Homo sapiens: one gene and its partner. The protein of the gene in region 1 interacts with the protein of each later gene in a pairwise test. Each region holds a gene or a part of one and is shown on either strand. Other genes may lie near its edges.

Region 1 (6,690 bases):
CTAAAAATACAAAAATTAGCCAGGCATGGTGGCATGCACCTATAATCTCAGCTACTTGGGAGGCTGAGGCAGGAGAATCACTTGAACTCAGGAGGTGGAGGTTGCAGTGAACCAAAATCGCACCACTGCACTCCAGCCTGGGCAACAGAGTGAAACTCTGTCTCAAAAAAATAAAAATAAAAATAAAAACAGGCCGGGCGTGGTGGCTCATACCTGTAATCACAGCACTTTGGGAGGCCAAGGCAGGCGGATCACCTGAGGTCGGGAGTTCAAAACCAGCCTTGCCAACATGGCACAACCCCGTGTCTACTAAAAATACAAAAAATTAGTTGGGCATGGTGGCAGGCGCCTGTAATCCCAGCTATTCAGGAGGCCGAGGCAGGAGAATCGCTTGAACCTGGGAGGCAGAGGTTGCAGTGAGCCGAGGTCGCGCCACTGTATTCCAGCCTGGGCGACAGAGCAAGACTCCATCTCAAAATAATAATAATAATAATAATAAAATTAAAAACCTAGTATGCATCAGAACCACAAGATGAGCTTATTAAAATACAGATTCTCAGGCCCGAAAGAGTGCTTCAGTAGGAATCTGTGTTATTTCAAGCATTCTTTATGACTTTGATGCCCACCAGGGTAAGAACATTATAATAAGTTAACTTAAAGTGACCAGAATCCCCAGACCTAAGGCTCACTGATTAAGTCTTAGGAAATGGAGGGAGTTCAGAGGTTGAATCCCCACCCTTCGTCCTCCAAGAGGTTAGATGAACAAAGACTCCAAAGTTTATTTGCCTTTCCTTTTTAATCCTCTTCTTACTCCAACTCTTTAAAAAAAAAACTGCCCAGAAAACCCAGTAATTAAGCAAAAGGGAGCTCAAAGAGCCAAGGCAAGCCAGCCCAAGAGTAGCAGGGTCCCTCCCGCAGGGGCCAAAGTCTGGATGCTGGGGTCTCCACTCAGAGCCTGGTAGTAAAAGCTGGTGCAGAATAAGGTCGTTCCGGAAGCTAGCAATAACCCAGCCTGAAGGAGACACAGCACAGAAAACAGGATTGTTAAGAACAGGGCAGGCTGAGAGGGAGTGTGTGGGGCTTGGTCAGGGTTAGGCGCAGGGAAAGATTACCCAGAGTGGCTTTCTGCAATGGGGCACCCCTAACAGGGCCAGGCTGTGTAAGAAGTGGTGTTTGTTGGCCTTGTCAAACAGCTGTAAGAAAAACAGAAACGAAGGGATGTCGTAGGCAATACAGGTACTGAGATCCCCTGATGACACAAGGGACCAAAGTTCCTTCCCCCACCCCACCCTTGAAGTCCCAGCTTGATCCCAGGCCTTTGGCTTACAGAGCCTTTGGCCTTTGCTGCTCCAGAGATCCGCGGCTCGCCCCACCCTCTCCCCGCCCACTTCCCCCAGGGACCCCAGACTTTGTGCCTTCGTAGACCCACGAGTCAGGGAGCCCCAGCGCAGTTACTTCACCTCCTTCCCGTAGGCATCTGGGAATTGGGCGCCTGTGGAGAAAAGAAGCAAAGGTTAGCGGTCCTAGTGCCAGCCCTGACCGCCCCCAATCCGGGGGGACCCAGGTGGACATTGGCGAGAAAGGGCACCCCCCCCCCCGCCCCAGGAAGCTTCCGATTGGTGGGAACACGCTCGGGCAGTACTGGGAACCAATTGGACCCAGCTGGGGGACTTTAAAAGGTTTAGGGCTCCGCGGACTGTCTGATAAACGAGAGGCCGGGCACCTCCCATAGGTTACGCCCTTGCAGCAGACCCCAGAGGACGCCCCAAGTACAGTCCCATCTTCGTCCCCAGCCCCCTGACCGTGCGCCCCGTAGGAAGCGAAGCCTAAGGCCGCAGCTCCGGACAAGGCGCCCAAGCGGCGGAAAGCTGCAGCTGGCCCGGCCATAGCTGTAGAACAGGACGCACCGGACCAACGCCGCCCAGGCCACCCAAGAGGCCAGCCAATCCCGACCGCCCATGCAAATAAGGTTCACAGGCGCCCAATCCGGGCCGTGTTCATTTCAGCATTGCGCTCTTCACCCGCCTTTGTAAAACCGCTGCAGAGTGGCGAAGACGTCTGGCGGGCGGAGAAACCAGCACCAATTAGGAACAGAGGAGCTAAGCAGTGGGGGGGCGGGGTTGAGGGCGGGACTAGGGGGATTTGCGTCAAGGATTGGCCCACTTTCCAAGTTGATCGCCTCTTCGAACCCCCCACCCCCATGCTCCGGCCAATTTCCAAAGATCCCGGTCTTCTCTCAAAGTTCCGCCCCTTTTTCCACAGGCTCCTCCTGTTCAGCTTCAAATCAAACCCACTACCAAAAAGAGGCGGCCCGAAAGATAGCAAAGCCCCACCTATTGCCAGTAAACCCCGCCCACTGCACAAATGGCCCCTCCCCCATGTCTGAAGGCTCCGCCTTCTTTGTATGATGCCCCGCCCCCTGTAGTTAAGATATTCTCCCCCCCGCCAGCCCTCCGAGACCGCGAGAGCCCCGAGGGTGGGAGATCCGGGGGAATGTCTCCACCCTGCCCTGGCCCGCTACGTCCATCTGTCCGTCTGTCCGCTCCCGCCTCTTCCCACCATCTCCAATCCCCCCATTCTCCGGAGGGCGGGCGGGCAGGCGGGTGCGAGCGGGGGGTGCGAGCGGGGGGTGTGCGCCGCTCTCTCGGCAGGGGGCGGGGGAGGCGGCCGCGCGGTGACGCGCGGGGCTGCTGCGGCTGCTCCGCCGGCGGATCATCACTCTCGGGCTGGGATGGACGCGGGGCGGGCCGGCCCTGGCGCGCGGAGCCAGGAGTCCGGGCCTCCCGGCTGCTGAGCGTCCCTCGAAGCCTCCCCTCACCCCCGCCTTCCCTCCTAGGATCCGCGCTGACCCCCGCCCCGGGGCTCTGGACTCGGCTCCCGCCCTCCTCTGACTCCCCGGACCTCCCCCTCACGCCCGCCCTCGGGATCGACTAGATCCCTCCCCCTCCCCGAGGATTCCGGCTGGATCCCTGCCCCTGCACCGCGGATCCTGCGCTCCCGGGCCCCGGGCCCCTGGGGATTAACGTGGACTCCTCCTCCAGCACCCGATCCTTAGGATCCTCCGCCTGGACCGCCTTCTGGTCCCTCGAAGCCGGCCCACGGAACCAGCGGATCCTCAATCTAGTCCTGTCCCGTTGCCCCCTCCTTTCTCTATCGTCCCTACTGCGGGGTTCCCTGTTCTCGGGCTCCCCCTGATCCCATCCCCTAGCTCTCCTTTTCCCGGGGATCGACTGGATCCCGGCCCCGCCCCCCGGGGCTGGGGCGATCCCCCTCCCCCGCCGGGTGAGGCGCTGCGGGCGGGGGCTGGGCCTGCGGGGCCGCGGGGGCTCAGAGGCCGCCGCCCCCTCCCGAAGGCCTTTCGCCCCCCACTCGGAGCCCTGGATGGAGGCACCACGGCCCCAGGGCTGAGCCAGGTAGGACCTAAGCCGGGTCGGTGGAGGGGGCTGCGTGGCGGTCCACTGGGGTCTCCCTCTCCCCATCTCCCTCCCTGCGCCTGGTTTCCCCCAGCCTGCTCTGTCTGCGTGTCTCCGCCTAGGGATGCTCTCGCCGTGTCTCTGCGTCTTGGTCTCTTTGTCTCTGCCTCTCTCCAGTCCATGAATGATCCTTTGAATGGGCCCACAGACCCCGTGTGTTCCCATCTCCCCCTCCCCCTCCTTCTCCCCTTCCCAGCCAAGCCATTTTCACCACTGCAGGAAGGGGGGGCCTGCGGCCTGAGCCCCCGTCCCTCAACTCTCCCCGGCTGGGGGAGTCAGGCCTGGGCAGGAATGGAGAGAGAAGGCAGAGGGATAGGGAGAAGGAGGAGGGAGCAAGATGTGGCAGACAGAGATGAGGAGAGAAAATGGGGGAGACAGTGATGGGGAAAGACAGGAGAGAGAGACAGAAGGCTTAAGGGGGAAATTTGGGGAAGGCATTTGGAGAGAGAGAAAGAAATGAGAAACACCAAGGAGAGAGATACAGAAGAGAAAGATGTAAAAAGACCGAGGGTGAGAGACTGAAGGCAAGAGCTGGGGCAAGCTGGAAGAGGCCCACAAAAGATGCTCCCAGGGAGCACTACGGAGAGGAGAGAGATGGGGGGGCCTCCAGTGGGAGGGAAGGAGGGAGCGGAGCTGGTGGGAGGAGGCCAGGGGCCCAGAGTACCCTCAAGAGGAGAGGGTGACTGAGGCAGATCTTGTTGTGGGGAGGGGGAGGGGGCAGCAAGGCCATGGTAGCTGAGCCCAGTCTGGCACAGGAAAAGGAGATCCTGGGGGAATCAGCCCCGAGCCACCTCCAGGTGATGGAGGAATAGAGGAGCCTTAGAGAAGCTGAAAGGCAGGGGGCATGACTGGGTGTGTGTGGTAAGGATTCCTGTGTCCTCATCTCTGGAATAAATTGACACCTGCAGAGAGCCACCCGCGGGCTGGCGCCTGGCTCTGAAAACCCCGCGTCAGCAAACAGCTCTGGCGGCTGGTGGGGGGGCGGGGGGGGGGCTTGCCGAAATGACCTGGGTGTCTGCCCCTCCGGTCTGATCTTCTCCCTTGGCTGGCCCCTGCTGCCCTGAGCACCCAGGCATCAGAGCAGCAACTGTAGGGGGGGTGGCAAGGGGAAGGGTAGGTGAATGGATGGGTTGGGATGGGAAGAGAAGAAAGCTCAGTGTTGCCCCCAGGACATGGGTCACAATGGCTTGCAAAGATGAAAAGGTGGTGGGGTCCAAGGTTGCTTGAAATTGCTGGAGGGGGGCAGTCAGTAGGCTCCTGTGATGTCTCTTCAAGCCCACCTCAGCACCCCCTCTCCCAAGCCAGAGGCCTGGTCACTAAGGCTAGGCTTTGATTGGCCAACAGGCAGGGCTTTTAGCGTTCTTGGTGCCCCCAATCTCCCCCTCCTCTCAACATATATACTTCTTCCTCTATGTTAAGGTTGGGGGGAACTCTTGCATTCTGACTCACGCCTTTGCCCTCCCCTTCATGCCCTGAATGGACCACCAAACCAAGCCAGCCCCTTCCCGTCTTCCTCCAGAACCCCCCTCCAGGGTTAAAGCTGCAGCCCGTTGCCGAGGTAACATTGCGGGGCAGCATCCCGTCACCCGGCAACCGGCTGCAGGATCACGCATCTGTCCCTGGATTTGCCCCTCCAGCGTCCCCTCCCTACTCTAACCCCAGCCTCAAGGTACCCCAACTTCTGACGGAGGAAATGGAGAGAGTCTGGGGAGAGAGGGGTCGCAGGCAGCACAAATCCTTAGCGAATGGTGTGTTGAAGTGGGGATAAGGTGCTAGGTTTGTGCAGTCCCAAGAAAGGCCTGAGTCTGGCCTGGGGTGGGGGTTCAGCGCCATGAAATTACAGCTCAGGAGTAATTAACACATATAAACAAACCTGCCTCTTCCAGCTAATTAATGACTTGGTATTTTTGTTTTCTCTTCCTTGTCTACCTCATTCCCTCCCAGGGAGGTGGGAGCTGGGACTCCTGAGTCCCTGAGGAGAACCTGCCTGGGAGGGATACATCAGCTGGAAGGGAGCATGCTGGGTCTGGAGAGCTGACCCGCCTCTCCTCTGGCTGGGTCCTGGACTTGAACCACATCTGGGCCCCACCCCCAACCTAGGCGTCTGCTGAGGGGAGAAGGGCTGCTGGGTGGGAGTGGGGAGGTGTCAGGGGGCCTGTGGGTGGGAGAAGGGGGCAACTTGGTCTGAATTCCAGGTCACTAACCACTTGTCTCTTCTGTTTCCCCATTCCTTTCTGTCTGCCCCATCCAATTTCCCTTGCCCTCTTCCACCTCTGTATTTTTCTGTCTGTCCGTCTGTCTGTATCCTGCCTCCCTGCCCCTCTCGCTCCACCCCCCGCAGGTCGGGCCTGCCTTCACCTTCTCCCATTTCCTTCCCCTTCCCCACCCCGTGCCCCCTCCATGGAGAGGAACAGACCCCTTCTCTGTCCAGTCTAACCCAGGTCCCTCCCCAACCCCCTCCTCCCTCCTTTCCCCCCGCCCCTCCTCCCTCCTGGGGCGAGGGGGGCCTCCCTCCCTCTCCCCCCCTTCTCTCTCTCTCCGAGGGGGGGGGGTCCCAGGGAGGGAGGGGGGGTCCCCCGATCAGCATGTGGCTCCTGGCGCTGTGTCTGGTGGGGCTGGCGGGGGCTCAACGCGGGGGAGGGGGTCCCGGCGGCGGCGCCCCGGGCGGCCCCGGCCTGGGCCTCGGCAGCCTCGGCGAGGAGCGCTTCCCGGTGGTGAACACGGCCTACGGGCGAGTGCGCGGTGTGCGGCGCGAGCTCAACAACGAGATCCTGGGCCCCGTCGTGCAGTTCTTGGGCGTGCCCTACGCCACGCCGCCCCTGGGCGCCCGCCGCTTCCAGCCGCCTGAGGCGCCCGCCTCGTGGCCCGGCGTGCGCAACGCCACCACCCTGCCGCCCGCCTGCCCGCAGAACCTGCACGGGGCGCTGCCCGCCATCATGCTGCCTGTGTGGTTCACCGACAACTTGGAGGCGGCCGCCACCTACGTGCAGAACCAGAGCGAGGACTGCCTGTACCTCAACCTCTACGTGCCCACCGAGGACGGTAAGGGCGCGGGCACAAAGCCGGGCACCCCGTGGACACAGCCCACAAACGCACATGCAGACCCTCAGGCACTGGCACCGCTCTAGGGCTCAGAGCTGGGCCTTTGTGGGGGCAGTGAGGGACGGAGTGTCCCTGCAACCTCTACGTGCCCCCTGAGGATTGTAAGGGTGCCTCC
Region 2 (7,277 bases), on another chromosome or scaffold:
CTGAACATATCTAAGGTTCTATTGCAGCCCATAGTTAGGACATTGGCATTTAGTCTAAGGCTGTAAAAATTGCTCGTGGAAAGGAGGATTCTAGAAAGTGCTGCTAACCAGCCTGGGCAACAAAGTGAGACCTCATCTCTAATAAATATTTTAAGGCCGGGCGTGGTGGCTCACGCCTGTAATCCCAGCACTTTGGGAGGTCGAGGCAGGCGGATCATGAGGTCAGGAGTTCGAGACCAGCCTGACCAACATGGTGAAACCCTGTCTCTACTAAAAATACAAAAATCAGTCCATTGTGGTGGTGCGCACCTATAATCCCAGCTACTCAGGAGGCAGAGGCAGGAGAATTGGTTGAACCCAGGAGGCGGAGGTTGCAGTGAGCCAAGATTGCACTACTGCACTCCAGCCTAGGTGACAGAATGAGACTCCATCTCAAATAAAATAAAATAAAATAAATATTTTAAAAATTAGCCAGGCATGGTGGTGCATGCCTGTAGTCCCAGCTACTCCGGAGGCTGAGGTGGGAGGATTGCCTGAGCCTGGGAAGTCGAGCCTGCAGTGAGCTGTGATCACGCCACTGCACTCCAGCCTGGGTGACAAAGTAAGACTCTGTCTCAAAAAAAAAAAAAAAAAGTGTTGTTGAACCAGTCAGGGCATTGGCCAGCAACGATGGCAGGCTGAGGACGTCCACAGTAGATGGAGATGGAAGTAAGAAGGCTTTGAAGGGATGGTGAGATGAAACCTGGGAATGATAACTTTCTAGTTATCCTACAGAGGAGTCATTAAAAAGCATTGACATGCAGTTATTGACTAACCATAATTCATGGTTACTGGAATAGGTGTAGATGTATTTAAAGCACAATGAACCAGCCTGGCCAACATGTTTAAACCCTGTCTCTACTAAAAATACAAAAATTAGCCGGGTGTGGTGGCGGGCGCCTATAATCCCAGTTACTCGGGAGGCTGAGGCAGGAGAATCACTTGAACCCAGGAGGTGGAGGTTGCAGTGAGCCAAGATCGCACCACTGCACTCCAGCCTGGGCAACAGAGCGAGATTCTGTCTCAAAATAAATAAATAAATAAAGCATAATGACTATAGTTAATAATAATGTATATTTCAAAATTGCTAAGAGAATAAACCTCAAATGTCTCACCATAAAAATGATAAGTGAGGTGATGGCTATGTTAAGTAGCTTGTTTTAGTCATTCCACGTTGTGTACACATGTCAAAATATCACTGTACCACATAAGTATATACAATTATGATTTGTCAGTTTAAAATAATAATAAAAAACAAAAATGAATATATTTAGAGAAGACATTCAGGCCATTTAGCATTATACTAATGGGCAACTGATTTCAACTTGAAATGGAATGATTCTGTGGACACTTTAAGGTGGTTCTGATCTCCAAAACATAAAGATGTGTTATCAAATGTGAGCAGAAGTTTAGATCAAAAATAAGACTTTGGGAATCCTAAGGAGTGTGGCTGTGGATTAAAGCTAAACACTGCTGTTTCTCTAGAAATCTTTTAGTTTGCTGCTATGCCTGACCGCATTTGAGATAAGCAGAGTCGGGGGATAAAGAGCAAGAGCTGTGATTTCAAGAAGTGTGGTGTCAGGGGACCTTGTATAGGGCACTCCTCACAGTGCCTCAGACATAATAGCAATGCCCTTTCCTCTGTCTCGCCCCACACAGGCAGGACAGATGAGGAAGCTGAGTGTCACTGTGGAATGTGGAAAACATGAGCTCTAGTCAGACATAGTTATTAAGACTTTGTGACTTTGAACACAAAATCACAAACAGTTCATGCTACTCAACTATTACTGAAAATTGTTCCATGAAACAATAAATCCAAATACTCTACAAGCTACTCTGCAAAAAGAAAAAAGAAGACCATGATCAAATCATTTTGGGAAATGCTCCTTTTCTTAGAGATTTACAATTCCTGTCAACCCAATAAACACTCAGAGCAGTATAGCAGGATAAGTAAGTCTAATTTCTTTTAACCTAGGTGTTATGCCTTGAATATGTCCCCCCAAAAGCATGTATTGGAAACCTAATCCCCAGTGCAACAGTGTTGGGAGGTGGGGCCTAATGAGAGGTAATTAGGGCATGGGCTCCGTCTCATAAATGGATTAATCCCATTGCTGCAGAAGTAGGTTTGCTACTGCAGGAGTGGATTCCTTGTAAAAGGACAGATTTGGTCCTGTTTTTTCTCTCTGACTCTCCCTTGACCTCTGCCCTCTGTCATGGTATGTGACACAGCAAGAAGGCCCTCATCAAATGCCCACCCCTTGATTTTGGACTTTCCAGCCACCAGAACAATGAGGAATAAATTTCAGTTCTTTATAAATTACCCAGTCTGTGGTGTTTTGTTATAGCAGTGCAAGATGGACTAAGACTTGGGGATTTGCAAAACTAATTTGGCCACAGACTCCGTTCCACATAATACTCATGAACATATTGTGGGACTGAATATGCTTTAAGAACCACAAAACCAGTTTCTAGAGCATATCTAGCTCATATGGGTTCTGGAATACTAGTGCTCCAATAACTCAGAATGAGTTCAAGCTGAATGAATTAAGACATCAAAACATCAAAGTTTTAAAATTATTAACAGTTGCCACAGATGACAAGAGAGGACACATGCTTAGAAATTCAGTCCTTAACTAAAAACATAGGAAAAAAAGAGAAATGTACCTGACAGAATTCTGTCCCACATTATCCTGACATAGTCATCCCGGTCAGAACGCGACTGCTCATGCCAGAATCCCAGAGCGTGGAGGAACTCGTGTTGAACTGTTGCTATTCGGTCACAGTTTGCCCCGATGGAAAGTTCTTGCTTCCCAACCCGCCTATTTCCTACTGAAGACCAGCAGCTTACAGGAGAGTTTACAAGAAAGGGGGAAGAGAATGTTACAATCTGAGGTCTCAGGGCAGAATCGCCACTGCCTAGTCCACTTCATTACCCACTTCATTACCCACCTTTGCTCTTACATCTGAACACTGTGCGTTTCTCTCATAACCCAGGTGACATAGTTTGGACAATTGTCCCCACTCACATCTCATGTTGAACTGTAATTCCCAGTGCTGGAGGTGGGACCTCATGGGAGGTATTTGAGTCATGGGACGAACCACACATGGCTTGGTGCTGTCTTCGCGATAGTGAGTTTTCATGAGATCTGGTCATTTAAAAGTGTGTAGCACCTCCCCCTCCCCACTCTTTCTCTGGCTCCTGCTTTTGCCATGCGACATGCCTGCTCCACCCTCACCTTCCACTATGATTATAAGCTTCCGGAGGCCTCCCCAAAAGCTGAGCAGATGTCAACACCATGCTTCCTATAAAGCCTGCAGAACTGAAAGCCAGTTAAACCTCTTTTCTGTATAAATTACCGAGTCCCTGGTATTTCTGTACAGCAATGCAAGAATGGCCTAATATACCAGGTATTGTATAATATTAAAAAACCTTACAGACCAGGTGATCTTTAAAGAACTTGCCCTAACACCAAATATTACATAGGAGCAAATCGTCCTCAAGGTGGTCTAGACCTGGTTTTTCTTGTGAATTTCAAAGTCTTTGAGCTCCTCGTTATGCCTGTGCCCATTAACAAGGGTTTTACAGGGACAGCAACCACTCAGAATTGCTGAGCTCAAGACAAATAATACTGTCGCCTTCTTAACCCAAGAAATAAGAGTGGTTAGGTTAAAATAAGCTTAAGCACAGACATGGACACACATAAATACACATGTTTTTTACTTGAAAGGGATAAAGAGTATGTAAATTACAAACGGGCTGAAATTCACAAGGTTGTGGGTCTGATGGCATGCAATCCCATCCACTTTCCACTTTGTCTAAAGGCGGTTACATGTATGGGAATATAATTTCTATGTCTACAAAAACTAGATCCAGTTGTTTTTTACTCTCCAGCAACTAGCAAGAAAGTCCCCACCCCTTCCTAAAGGTCAGAGCCTAGGATGATTGCTGCAATGTAATGTCCCAGGCACTAGAGTTCTCCTTAGATGCCTTAGAAGACTAAGTCTGCAACTTACCCACTGCCCTTGAACACTGATATATAGTTTGTTTCTCCAGCCCAAGGCTTAAAGTCAATACATGTTTTAAGGCGATAACGTTCAAATGCATTGAGGATAACTCCCTTAGCATTCATTTCTGAAGGAAGAAAACAAACAAAAATAAGCTTATTAAAACAATCACCACTGAAAAATCTTCCATGGAAGCAGGCCACTGCAATATATTGCTTATCATGAGTTAGTCCCTTCATGAATGTTGAGTCTTTTATTTTTACAAAAATTAGAATTCAGTACCCATTGAATATCATATACAGTATCTGCTTATTCTTCAGATCCCTTATTTGGCCTTATATTTCTCTAGCACTCACTCACTAATGGTGCATTACTAAACAATAAAAATGCATCTTTACCTCAGAGAACATATCCATTGGATCACAGGCAATCAAAATAAATAATCACCATCACGTACTTCATCTGAGAAGCCATAATATGTATTTAAAGCCACACAGCTGGGCTTTTAATCTGAGGATCTTCAGATGGGAGAGTCTATGAATACCCTGAAATAGTATGCAAAGTGTGTATGTGTGTGTGTGCATATCTACAAATGCAAAGTGCATTTTCTAGAGAGAGCTTTCATGAGGTCTGCAAGTGAGTTCAGGGCCCAAAATAAGGGTAAGAGCCAATGCTCTGGATATAAGAGTGATATGGATATGGAGCTCAAAGAAGGCAGAGGTGTGGAAGAAACAACATGCAGGAAAAGAAACTTGTGAGTGACCAGGAGGAACGGGCTGTATCAGATGCACATGGAGAGGCATCACATGGGCCAGGTCCTAGTGACGTGAAAGATGGGAGCCTGCCAGGAGGTGGGAGACAGTATGGCAGAGGGGAAAGTGCTTGGACTTTGGAGCCAGACACACCTAAGTTCTTCCCTATCCTCACCACTCACTTTTGACATAAAACTTTTGCCAATTCAATCAACCTTTGGAGCTTTGGTGTTATTATCAGTTAAGTGAGGAAATAAAATCAACTTTGCAGGATATTGTGAGGATAGTAAGAGAAAGTAAAGGTGAAGTTCCAAGTAAAATTAGCATTTGTCAAATGTTCATTTCCTTTCTCCCTTCTAGAGTAACCATTGCATAGACATTCAAGGAAGATTACTTGGTATGCCTCTGTTGAGGCAGGTCTAAGAAGATCAAGAACAGGATTCACATAGGGAAGACCCTAAAATCCATAAGTTGTAAAAGGCACTAAGTTCAGACTTTTACAATACCACATAAGTAATACACTATCGTTATAAATAAGTTAAAAATTGATATGAATAAAAAGAAATTTAAAATCCTATCATCCAGGAATAATCAATCACCCTTACCATACATTTTGCCTTTGAATACATATATAACATACATATGTTAATATTTCTATAAAAAATAAAGTCATCTACATAGCATTTTACCAACTATTTTTTCACTAAATATTATGTCATCAAAATATTTTTTCATCATTATTCTTTTTATCATTTTAATGAATAGAGGATTACAAATTGGATCCATTGGACATTGGATCACAGGCAATCAAAATAAATTGCCACCACATACTTAATCTGAGAAGCTATAATATGTATTTAAAGCCTCACAGCTGGGCTTTTAATCCGAGGACGCTGAGATGGGAAGGTCTATGAACACCCTGAAATAGTATGCCGTGTGTGTGTGTGTGTGTGTGTGTGTGTGTGTGTATCTACATATGGCTGTTAACGTTCAAAATGTTCTGTCCTATAAGTATCATATTTGGGTCATTATTTCAAATGTAATATTTCCTTCAAATAAGGTATGATAATACTGACCACCATATCACTGTTTTAAACAGAATGTAAAAGAGCATACTAGTTTAGGCCATTTATCAAAACTTAATGAGGATAGTTTCTTGAATTAATAAATAAAGTAACACGTGAAAGCTTTATAAACACTGAGGCCCTTTACCAAGATAAGATCTTTGTTTTCCATATGCCTTTATTTACTGAGGGCCTTAGTTAACCTTGCGTTATAGATGCAGAAAGCTCCACTTGGAACCATGCCAGGCTTTGGAAAATGAGGCAAGTTGCTGGCAATCCTAGGAGTTCAGTAAGCAGCTGTTCAGGATTGTTTCCCCTTAGTAGCCCCTTCAGGTTTCTAGCACCTTCCCCTTCATTTCCATCCCCAACTCTTTACCCTCAGCCTCCCCCACTGCCTTTTCTGCCTTGGTGCTAAGGCAAGGAATTATAACTTAGGCCCTGGAAACTATAAATGGCTGCTATGAGTATTACTCCTTTCAGGGAAGTTGCATCTACCAGCCAGGTAACATCTGAAGTTCAAGCTCAAAGACTACAACCCTACTGGTAGAATTTCACAGTTTGACCTACTAGAATCTGAGTAATAGGGCCTTCCAGAAATCAACCCTTCATAGGTATTTATTTTTGCTACCTGTAAGAGTGGCCTTGCTTAGTAATTTTCTTAGTCTGAGTCATTTGAAGATGGTATACATTTCTGAAACGTAAGGATACTTTTCTTAATTTGAACATAGAAAACAAGTTGAATTCTACAATATTAAACAAAAGTATTTTCTAAATAAGAAATAATCAAAATCACATAATTGAAAAAAATTGTTCTATAAAAATTTGAAGTTTGATTCTATTATAAAGACTATACAATATGAAAAAATGCAATAACATTAAGTGAAAAAATTAGAACAAAAGATTTAAGACATCATAGTTATAACTATGTAAAAATGTGCACAGTTTGGATGGTAGGATCTAGGCTGAATTTTTACCTAACATTTTTCATTTATATATATACATATGCTTATCAATTTATTTCAAAAATGTTATTACATATAATACGCCAGAGACTATGGTAATCCTCCAATTTGCAAGATGAAAAATAGCTCTTATCCTCAAGGCATTCATTATGTTGTTTATAATGTTGTTTAAAAAATAAATAAAGCTCATGGTTAAATACATGGCAAAAAAAAAATAGCCTAAGATATATATAAAATTAAAGCTCCCTAATCTTTCATGGAACATACTTAGGAGAATAAGTTTTTTAAAAAAAGAAATATAACTGGATGTGGTGGCTCACGCCTGTAATCCCAACACTTCGGGAGGCCGAGGTGGGTGGATTGCCTGGTGAAACCCCATCTCTACCAAAAATACAAAAAATTAGCTGGACATGGTGGCATGCATCTGTGGTCCCAGATACTTGGAAGGCTGAGGT

What was found.
Region 2: the proteins of TMEM256 (region 1) and MEP1B interact in a protein complementation assay, tested with the Homo sapiens proteins (one study listed by IntAct).

What each region holds. Positions count from the first base shown.
Region 1 is NC_000017.11:7,402,198-7,408,887, forward strand, and holds TMEM256 (transmembrane protein 256 precursor), read right to left. Parts: upstream 1,901-6,690; 5' UTR 1,888-1,900; coding exon 1,803-1,887; intron 1,493-1,802; coding exon 1,461-1,492; intron 1,194-1,460; coding exon 1,113-1,193; intron 1,013-1,112; coding exon 869-1,012; 3' UTR 778-868; downstream 1-777. Other genes in the region: NLGN2 (neuroligin-2 precursor), read left to right, coding at 6,059-6,515.
Region 2 is NC_000018.10:32,199,787-32,207,063, reverse strand, and holds part of MEP1B (meprin A subunit beta isoform 1 precursor), read right to left. Parts: intron 4,172-7,277; coding exon 4,054-4,171; intron 2,883-4,053; coding exon 2,704-2,882; intron 1-2,703. UniProt on the Homo sapiens protein: Membrane metallopeptidase that sheds many membrane-bound proteins. Exhibits a strong preference for acidic amino acids at the P1' position. Known substrates include: FGF19, VGFA, IL1B, IL18, procollagen I and III, E-cadherin, KLK7, gastrin, ADAM10, tenascin-C.